Linked DNA regions of Homo sapiens: region 2 is linked to region 1. The links come from fine-mapping of genetic effects on gene expression. A gene starts in region 1. The other region holds a variant in brackets. All regions are shown on one strand. Distances are between the middles of the regions. Region 1 holds the start of LINC01962 (long intergenic non-protein coding RNA 1962). Region 2 holds the start of TRV-CAC1-3 (tRNA-Val (anticodon CAC) 1-3).

What was found. PIP is the estimated chance that this variant, and not a neighbour inherited with it, causes the effect.
Region 2: its variant is fine-mapped to the expression of LINC01962 in thyroid (GTEx, PIP 0.94).

Annotation. Positions count from the first base shown.
Region 1 is chr5:181,189,530-181,193,912 of GRCh38, forward strand. LINC01962 (long intergenic non-protein coding RNA 1962) reads right to left here and starts at 2,379. Exons shown (of 2, transcript NR_108031.1): 1 at 2,213-2,379; 2 at 1,517-1,816. It overlaps TRT-TGT6-1 (tRNA-Thr (anticodon TGT) 6-1), which reads right to left and starts at 2,229; the gene lies at 2,158-2,229. It overlaps TRIM7-AS2 (TRIM7 antisense RNA 2), which reads left to right and starts at 2,361. Exons shown (of 2, transcript NR_183285.1): 1 at 2,361-2,611. RefSeq lists silencers at 1,358-1,487, 2,108-2,187, 2,368-2,707 and an enhancer at 2,168-2,347.
Region 2 is chr5:181,102,147-181,106,529 of GRCh38, forward strand. TRV-CAC1-3 (tRNA-Val (anticodon CAC) 1-3) reads right to left here and starts at 179; the gene lies at 107-179. RefSeq lists enhancers at 2,215-2,716, 2,717-3,216. The variant CT/C (reference allele first, on the strand shown) is at 2,578.

The sequences.
Region 1 (4,383 bases):
AGGCTGGGACCCACGCGCGCGCGCTCCCGCGGTGCAGAGTCGGGGTCCTGGCTCACAGCCCTCGCAGCATTCTCCCGGGATTGCCCCCGGGCCGCCTCCAGCACAGGGCAAGCCTGAGGCTCGAGCTGGGCGGGCGCGCTCCTCTTTTCTCGCCTCAGACCTACTCTCGCCCTGCGCACTTTAATTGCACTGGTTTATTTAGTAGTAAAAATAGTGATGCGGTTTCCTGCTGTAAAATTCGCGATAATCTACTCAGAGCTGATGCACAGGTTTATTTTTGTGTCACCAGCAGAGACATTTCCTACACTGCTGTAAAACAGCGTGGGATGGTGGTTAAGCTACTCCGAGGAAACAATGCTCATTTTTCCATTCGCACGCTCGGCGATCTTGCTCCGCCGTCTGCGACCGCCACTGTCCTCGCCCCTCCTCTCTGCCTCTCCACGCTGGACTCCCCTGGGTGCCGTGGCTGGCTTTCGGCTCTTCCAGCAGTGAACATTTCAGGTGAACGGACCCGCCCCAAGGGTCCTCCCCACCCGGCATAGCTCTCCCTTGTCCCAAGCCTCGCACCCACGCCTCCCCCAGCAGCTGGACAGGAGCGCCAGCCTGGGAGACCTCCCGGCACCTCACCCAGATCCCACCTGATTCAGCCAGGTGACCCGTGAGTGTACGGGAGCGGCTGTAACGCCCAGACTCTGAGAGCCCCCGAGTGCGAGGCCTGAGGTTCATCCACCTGTCTCTTCGATGATTATGGGGACCGCCTGCCAACACCCCCACACACAAGCAGACGCACGCACCCTGGGAGTCCACGGCTTTCGTCGGGAGGGTATCTGTAGTTAAGCCGTCAGGTAGCTCGCCACTGGTCCCCGTGACCCGACTTCTACAGTGGGGTGATCTTCCTGTGGGGCAGGCGTTTCGGGGTCCACGAGTCCGAGGAGCCCCGGGAGCGCTAGTGCCCGAACGTGCTGGCAGGCTCCTGGCCTCTCCCGAGCGAATCCATCCCGGTCTTGACCCACGGTCTCGGCTCTTTGGACCGGAGCAGGCATGGGTGAGAGAGGGAAGCGCATACCTCCCGGCCGGAGCCGCAGACCCCGCTCGCTCCTCCACGCCTCCCAGTCAAGGCAGTCACCCCTCCGGTCTCTACCCAGGTGGCCCCGAGCGATTTTCTCTTCTCTGGTTCACCGGACAGGGATTCCGTTTTCGAACCTTGAGCTACCCTGGAGTGGTCCCGGTATAAGCCGCGGCCCCACCTGGGACGGGGACTCGCTCAGAGCTTTTTTGAGGTTCCCTCCGGCTGGAGAGAGGGCGCCTGCGACAGGGGAGTGTACGGCGGGACCCAGCGCCGCCTCCACCTGTGCCCAGGCCTCCAAAGTGCGCGGTGCGGGGAAGACGGAGGCGGGAGCCGTCCCGAGACCCCCAGGGGGCCAGTCCTGCACCTGGGCAGCGCCCCCACTGTTCACTGAGGACTTGGGCTCACTTTCTACACTTCCGTTAACAGCAAGAATAAATCAGTCAGAAGGCCAGCATACCTTAGTTATATATTTTGTCTAAAATAAACTAAAATTTTGTTTTAGGCTGAAAGCGAATGTGACAGGTAGAGCCGTTACTCCCGGGTCATGAATGTGGCCGTCTGCGCTTTTCCGTGTTAACTCCACAGGAAGAAATCAGACCTTGCAGCACGGAGGCGGCGGGGACCCGAAGGCCGAGGGCGCGCAGCCGCCAAGCGCAGAGCCGCAGACCAGAGCCTCAGCGCGCGCGTCGGGGAACGCCGCAAACAAACGCATGGCGGGAAGGGGCGCGGTAGTGCCATCGTCTCCCCCTGGAGAGAGGGAAGGAGACACGAGGGCGAGTCCCTAGCTGGAGTGGGAAGACCGGAGAGAAGCGGAAAGACGCTCCCGGGGAGCGCGCAGAAGGAAGTGAGCGGGGTCGTGGGGAGAGGGCGCGCGGGGCCCAGGGAACCCGTGATGGAAAAGGAAGCCCGCAGTGGGTCTGACTCTTCAAGAGATAAGGAAGTGGTAGGAAAGTAGCCTTGCGCGGTGGGTATCTTAGAGGCAAAAAGAAAGTGACTCCGCCAGGCTCTGGCCTCCCAGGAAGGCGGAAGTAGGCTTGCCTATCTTCCACTTTTCTATCTTTAAGGAAAGAATAGGAAAAGACGGAAGCAGGCCCCAGCGAGATTTGAACTCGCGACCCTGGTTTACAAGACCAGTGCTCTAACCCCTGAGCTATGGAGCCGGCTGTTGGTTTCCTTTTGACACAAAAGCAGTTGACGCTGTCGCCGGCGCCGCGCAGCCGCAGTCCGCTGAACCCTCGGCCGAGTTCTGTGGCTGCTGGACCCAAGCTCCTCCCACGGCCGCAGCCATCTTGCCCGTGCGTCCGTGGCACGGAACGGCCGTTAGTCCCGGCAGAGGGCTCCGCGAAGACAGTGCCGTCGTTGGGCGCGCGCGCGGGCGGGAGCTGTCGGGGCGGGGCGGCACCGCCGAGCTCCGAGCTGTGAGGACCGCCCCGGGCCTTGGGCGGGGCGGGGGCCAGGGAAGGGCGTGCGCAGGATTGGGGAGCACGTTTTGCGTCTTGCTGTGCGTGAGGAAGCGGGGATCCAGGTCAAGGCTATGGAAAGGTCAGGGAAGGGTGTCAGTGCGCCCGTCCTGCAGGGAGTCCAGATCCGAGAGGTTAGGGCGGGACCTGGGGCGAGCTGGGCGGTGGGGGAACAGTGGGGTCATCAGGAGGTGGAGGCCCAGCGGGAGTGTGGCGGGGGAGGCGGGGAATCAGGAGGGCCAGGTGTTTGGAGGCGCTGGGGTGGGAAGGGTCCAGGCGAGGTTGCGGGTGGGTGCCAGCCCCGTCTCACATTTGGATGAAGTAGGAAAAGGCAGCTTTTAGGGTACACCCTGACATGTTCTGTCAGGGCCCTTAAAGGGCCCACGGGCCGGAGGAGAGGGGAAAAGGATGAGGGCTCAGCCTGGCAAAGGACAGAAAGTGGTGGGTGTAGGAGGTGGACCTTGGTCTGGTGGCCTAGCCTGCCCTGTGCTCCCTGCAATGCCGGGTGACTTGGGTCACTGGGCGGCCAGGCCAGAGGTGGGCCTCTAGGTGCCCCCCATTCTGGATGCTGAGGGTCCCTGTGAGGGTCTGGCGGCAGAGGCCTGCGCTTATGGGTCAGCAGCTAGGACTGATGGGTTGAATAAGAAGGGCCCAAGTTAGGCCAGTTGTTCTCACAGACCCAGAGGTCCCTAGAGTTTATGATGCCCAGAGTCTAGGAGAGGGAAATGCACACACATGCCCTCGAGGACACCAGCATCCTGACATCCAAGTTACTGTACTGCCCTGGTTAGCAAGAAAGAACATCTGTTCCCTTCTCTATGCAATTGTTACAGTAACTGTTGTTACATTTCTTAAGATACATAGCTATATATGTAGTCACTCTGCAAACACACACACTCTGATAGACACACGATTGCACTCATGGACACAAAAACGGAAAATAAACATGCGGACAGCTACTCCCAGTCCCCAGACCTGACCCTCATGTGACACCTTCACCAGACATGGTACTTTCTGGGACCTGTAATGTGTGTTGTGATGCCCAGCACATTTGTTGGATGGTACAAAGGGAATTATGATACTTAATCAAAAAGCCATACAAGCCAGATAACATTAAGGCTTAACGGTAACAATAGGTGATTCAGTTAGGAAATTAATGTTAGAGATCGGTTTTCCTTGTGGAAATCAGTGGTATTCAAATGCCTGAATTGGCTACCCGGTTTTAGAGCTGCTCTCCATGTATGAGCAGGACATAGGATTCACTCTCTGGAATGCTTCTGTAGGCAGGACTTTGAAATGACCCTGTCCTCAGCCTGGAGGATGCGGTATTCTGATTGTCTGGTGCTGTGTCAACTGGGCCTGCCTCTGGGATAGTGTTGTGGCTGCCCCACGAGAACCCTATATGCCAGGTGAGCTTGAAGCACCTCAGAGACAGAGCACTGAAGCTCCATGACACAGGGCTATTCAGCTATCATTGCCCCTGTTTGCCAGCACCTCTGTCTAAATAACTTGTGTGGGACAGAATTAGGTCCGAGTCTGGTATTCTGTTCATCTAGCCTGGTAGCCAGGTAGTGAGAGAAGAAACCTGTGGCCCTTGTCTAAATATGAGGTGGTCAGTATTTAACAACAAATCAACAATAGGGTATGACCAGACTGACTTGGGTCTGTTTGCAACACCTGAACCTTATGCACATGCTCATAAATGCCCTCTCCAAAATACACACACACACCCCCAAGAAAGGTGAGATACAAATACACACTCCTCCCACACAGAAACATGCATGCTCATTCACTCTGGCAGAAACCCTGATCACACTTACGCTCCTGCACTCAGATCTAGGGAGTAGAAAATGG
Region 2 (4,383 bases), 87 kb before region 1:
CCTTGATAGCCTTTTCTCCTTAAGTGGGTGGAGATATTGGTGGGATGTTCTAGGCTAGTCTTCGGTGTAATAAATTTGAAGCAGTTAAGTGAAAAGTAGAAGGAACTGTTTCCGCCCGGTTTCGAACCGGGGACCTTTCGCGTGTGAGGCGAACGTGATAACCACTACACTACGGAAACCGGCTTGATGCTTTTCTGCCATCATAATTAGTCACGACACACGGCGGTATTTTATTTCTCATAAGAGTTCTGAGCTTCTTCCGTGGGTCCCTTTGAGCTTGGTAATGGGTATGAGCGCACAAGAATACAGAGTCCAGTGCAACCATTTAAAAGGGGAGGGTTGCAGAGTCAGAGAGTAGCTCAGAGACACAGCACAGCTGAGTGAATGTGGACGTTCACTTGAACACAAACACACAGAAACCAATTAGTTGGCTGATTTTCTCGAATACACACACATAGAAACCAATTAGTCGGCTGATTTTCTCGAATACACACATAGAAACCAATTAGTTGGCTGATTTTCTTGAATACACACACAGAAACCAATTAGTTGGCTGATTTTGTTGAATACAGGTGAATGTAGGGTTTATACAAGAAAAAGAGGAGAAAGGAGAGAAGCACCACAGCTCCTCTTGAAACAGTGAGTCTTTTTTTCTCCTGTAGGTAAGTTGCTTGGCTAGAGTTTGCCACAAGCATATGTCTGGGCACTGCCCTGAATGGGCTGGCTGAGCTCACTGGGAAACTATTTAATTATGTATAGTTTCCCCCAAAAAACTTAAGTCTGCAATGCTTGCAAAGTGCAGGTTGTGTCTGCACCGTTTTTTATCATTATAATTCTTCAGAAATTAACATAACCTTTCAATTTTCACTAAAGTGTACAACCAAAGCAACAGAACAGAATTCAGCATTCTTTTATTTCTCAAAAACAAAGCAATTTCCAATTGTTTAAGGGTAGTAATATAGTTTGTATTTATGTCCTCGTCAAAATTTACGTTGAAATGTAATTCCCAATATTGGAGGTGGGGCCTGGTGGGAGGTTATTGGATCATGAGGATGGATTTCTCATGAATGGTTTAGCACCACGGCCTTGGTGCTGTCCTCCCTATTATGAGTTCTCCCCTGATAAGGTTTTAAAAAGTGTGTGGCACCCCCCGCCTTCTTGCTCCCACCTTCGCCATGTGATGTGCCTGCTCCCTCTTTGCCTTCTGCCGTGATTGGAAGCTTCCTGAAGCCTCGCCAGAAGCAGAAGCTGGCGGTATGCTTCCTGCACAGCCTGCAGAGCCATGAGCCAATTAAGCCTCTTTTCTTATCAATTACCCAGCCTCAGGTATTTCTTTTCTTTTCTTTTCTTTCTTTTTTTGAGACGGAGTCTCGCACTGTCATCCAGGCCAGAGTGCAGTGGGGTGATCTCGGCTCACTGCAAGCTCCGCCTCCCGGGTTCACGCCATTCTCCTGCCTCAGCCTCCCGAGTAGCTGGGACTACAGGCGCCCGCCACCGCGCCCTAATTTTTTGTATTTTTAGTAGAGACGGGGTTTCACCATGTTGGTCAGGCTGGTCTCGATCTCCTGACCTCGTGATCCGCCCGCCTCGGCCTCCCAAAGTGCTGGGATTACAGGCGTGAGCCCCCGCGCCCGGCCGGGATTATCGTGTTCTTGCGGCTGAGTGGTGCTCTGCTGCGCATCCACCTCGGTGCCTCCGCCCACTCCTGCACCGACGGCCGCTGCCTTTGCTCGCAGATCTGGGCTATTGTGAACAGCGCTGCGGTAAACGTGGCGGCACAGACATCTCTCGGGCAAACCGAGGATGCGATACGGATACTTCCTCCGTCATTTCCACTCCCCTTTCTCCAGGCCCTGAAGCTCCGTCTCCACGCCCGAACTCGTGGCCTCCCATTCCCCAGGCAGCTTCTCCCGAATGTCCCCTCTCAGAAACCGGTGCCAGCGCGTCCCCGCTGTGCCACCCCCAAGCCCACTGCCAACCCCGCACAGTTCCGCGTCCGCCGTCTCCTCTCCCTGCGGTCGCTGCCACACCCTCTCGTCCGGTCTCCCATGCCCCCTTATGCTACCGCGTCGGGCATGAAAACTTCCTTTTCTTTCTTCTCCTTCTTTCCTTCCTTTTGAGACAGGGTCTTGCTCTGTCTCCGCCGCTGGAGTGCAGTCACAGCTCCCTGCAGCATCAACCTCCTGGACCTAAGCAGTCCTCCCACCTCAGCCTCTGGAGTAGCTGCGCCTGGGGACAAAGGTTCCTGGCCTCAGCGCACTCTCAGATTCACAGGGAGACAGAACTGAGACTGAGAGCTGGTTCCTCTCCCTCTCTCGTGGGGATACAGTGAGAAGGCAGCTGGGCAGAAATCAGGAAGAGGATCCTTACCAAGAACTCCAGTGTGCTGCACCCTGATCTAGACTTCCAGCCTGCAAAACTGTGAGAAATCAATGTTCGTTGAGCAGCCTGGCATATGGTATTGTGTTACAGCAACCCGAACCAAGACAAAGGTTCTCAGCTGGGGAGACAGAAACTCATCTGGAGCCTGCACTCCCCCTGGGGAGGGGAAGATGCCTGTCGACCTGGACAGAGGGC[CT/C]TGGACAGAGGCAGCCCTGGGCTGAGTTGGCCCTTGCTTGCCGCTTCTGCTCGGGGGCACTGGGACAGGATCCCGGAAGGTTCCAGAATGCATGTCAAGCAAGCAGCAGCCCCTGTGGAGTTTGGGGTAACATGCACAGAGGAAGAAATGGCGGAAAAGCAGCATCAGGATGGCTTTAGGGCGGGGAGCTGCTGGAAGGTGGCAGACAGAGTGAGCAGGGGCAGGAGATGGGCCAGCGAGGCACCCGCTGACATGGAAGTGCCGTCATGCACTGCACAGCAACCTTCCAGGCAAGGAGGGACACGTGCATGACAGTGGTCCCATGACTATGATGGAGCTGAAGAATTCCTATGGCCTAGGGATGTCATAGCCGTGGTACTGTCGTAGCACAGACATCACTCGTGGGAGCGATGGGCTATGCCACCCAGCCTAGGGGTAAATGAGGTGCACCTTCCAAGAGCCACCTAATCACCATTTCCCAGAATGCATCCTTGTTGTTAAGGGGCCCGTGACTGTATGTCTTGGGAAGCAACACGTGACTGTTGTCCCGCCCTGCACTGACTGCCCAGCGAGCACTCAGAATGCATTAGATATGGGGTGGACAGAGGAGGAGGACAGCACCAGAACCCAGACAGCAACCGCCCTTGGAATCACCATTTCCTGAACCAGGGGACCTCCCCAGCCACCCACACCAAAGCCTAAACTCTCATACCTCCTCTCTCTAAAGCAGGGGTCTGCAAGCTTTCTCTGCAAGGGCCACGTATGGAATCTTTTCAGTTTTGTCGGAAGTACCCACGTCTGCCCTTTTGGTGCCAAAGCCAGTAAAGGTGACACATAACGAGAGGGAGGCGCTGTGTGCCAATGGGACGTGTGTGCCAATGGGACTTGACTCAGACACCAACATTCAAATTTCATCTAATTTCCACATGTCATGAAATATTATTCTTTTAATTTTTTCAACCAGTAAAAAGTGTAAAAAATGTTCTTAGCTCACTGGGCGGTAGAAAAATAGATTGCAGGCTGGGTTTGGCTTGAGGGTAGTTTGCTGACCAAGGGAAAGGGAAAAAAACCAAACTTGCTCTAACCCACCTCTCTCCCTCCAGTCCCATGCAGTCAGTCCCACTTCCCTTTTTTTTTTTTTTTGTAACCACAAAATTATCTTCACCATTAATTTTTCTTGCTTTTGACTTGGTTTTCTATTACACAGGTAACTCTATTCTCTCCAATGAAACTACACCATTACCATGTGCTCAATTCCCAAACACATTTGAGTCTCTTTATTGCTTCAGTTCCACTCCATTGATCTTCTTGGTTCTTCCTGCACCAGGACCAAAGTTATTACAGTTAGTAATACATGGAGGCTTATCTTTGTGCAGATTTCTTTGTACTGGGATTTTCAGAAGACTTTCCTAGCCCTGGAAGGCTGGTGTAAAAGAAAGGTTTCTTTCATGTCTATAATTCCTCCCAAACTGCCCTCTAGCAGGTGAGCCCCTTGTGCTCCCACAAGCAGGGTGCTAGGCCGCCAATTCCTTACCCTTGGTGGGTTCTATAAATCATTGCAACATTGGCAATTGGCTAAGCAAGAAATGTCTTACTATTGTTTTAACTGAGTGTATTTTTTATACATTCACTTATTTTATTCTGGAATTGCCTGTTCATATCCTTTGCTATTTTCCCTCATGGAGGTTTTAATGGTTTAACCAATTTTTAGAAGTTCTTTACATGTGTTTAATATATAAATATAAATATTTACTTATTCCAGACATTTGTTATATTTTATATGTAATGTGTGTATTATCTCCTAA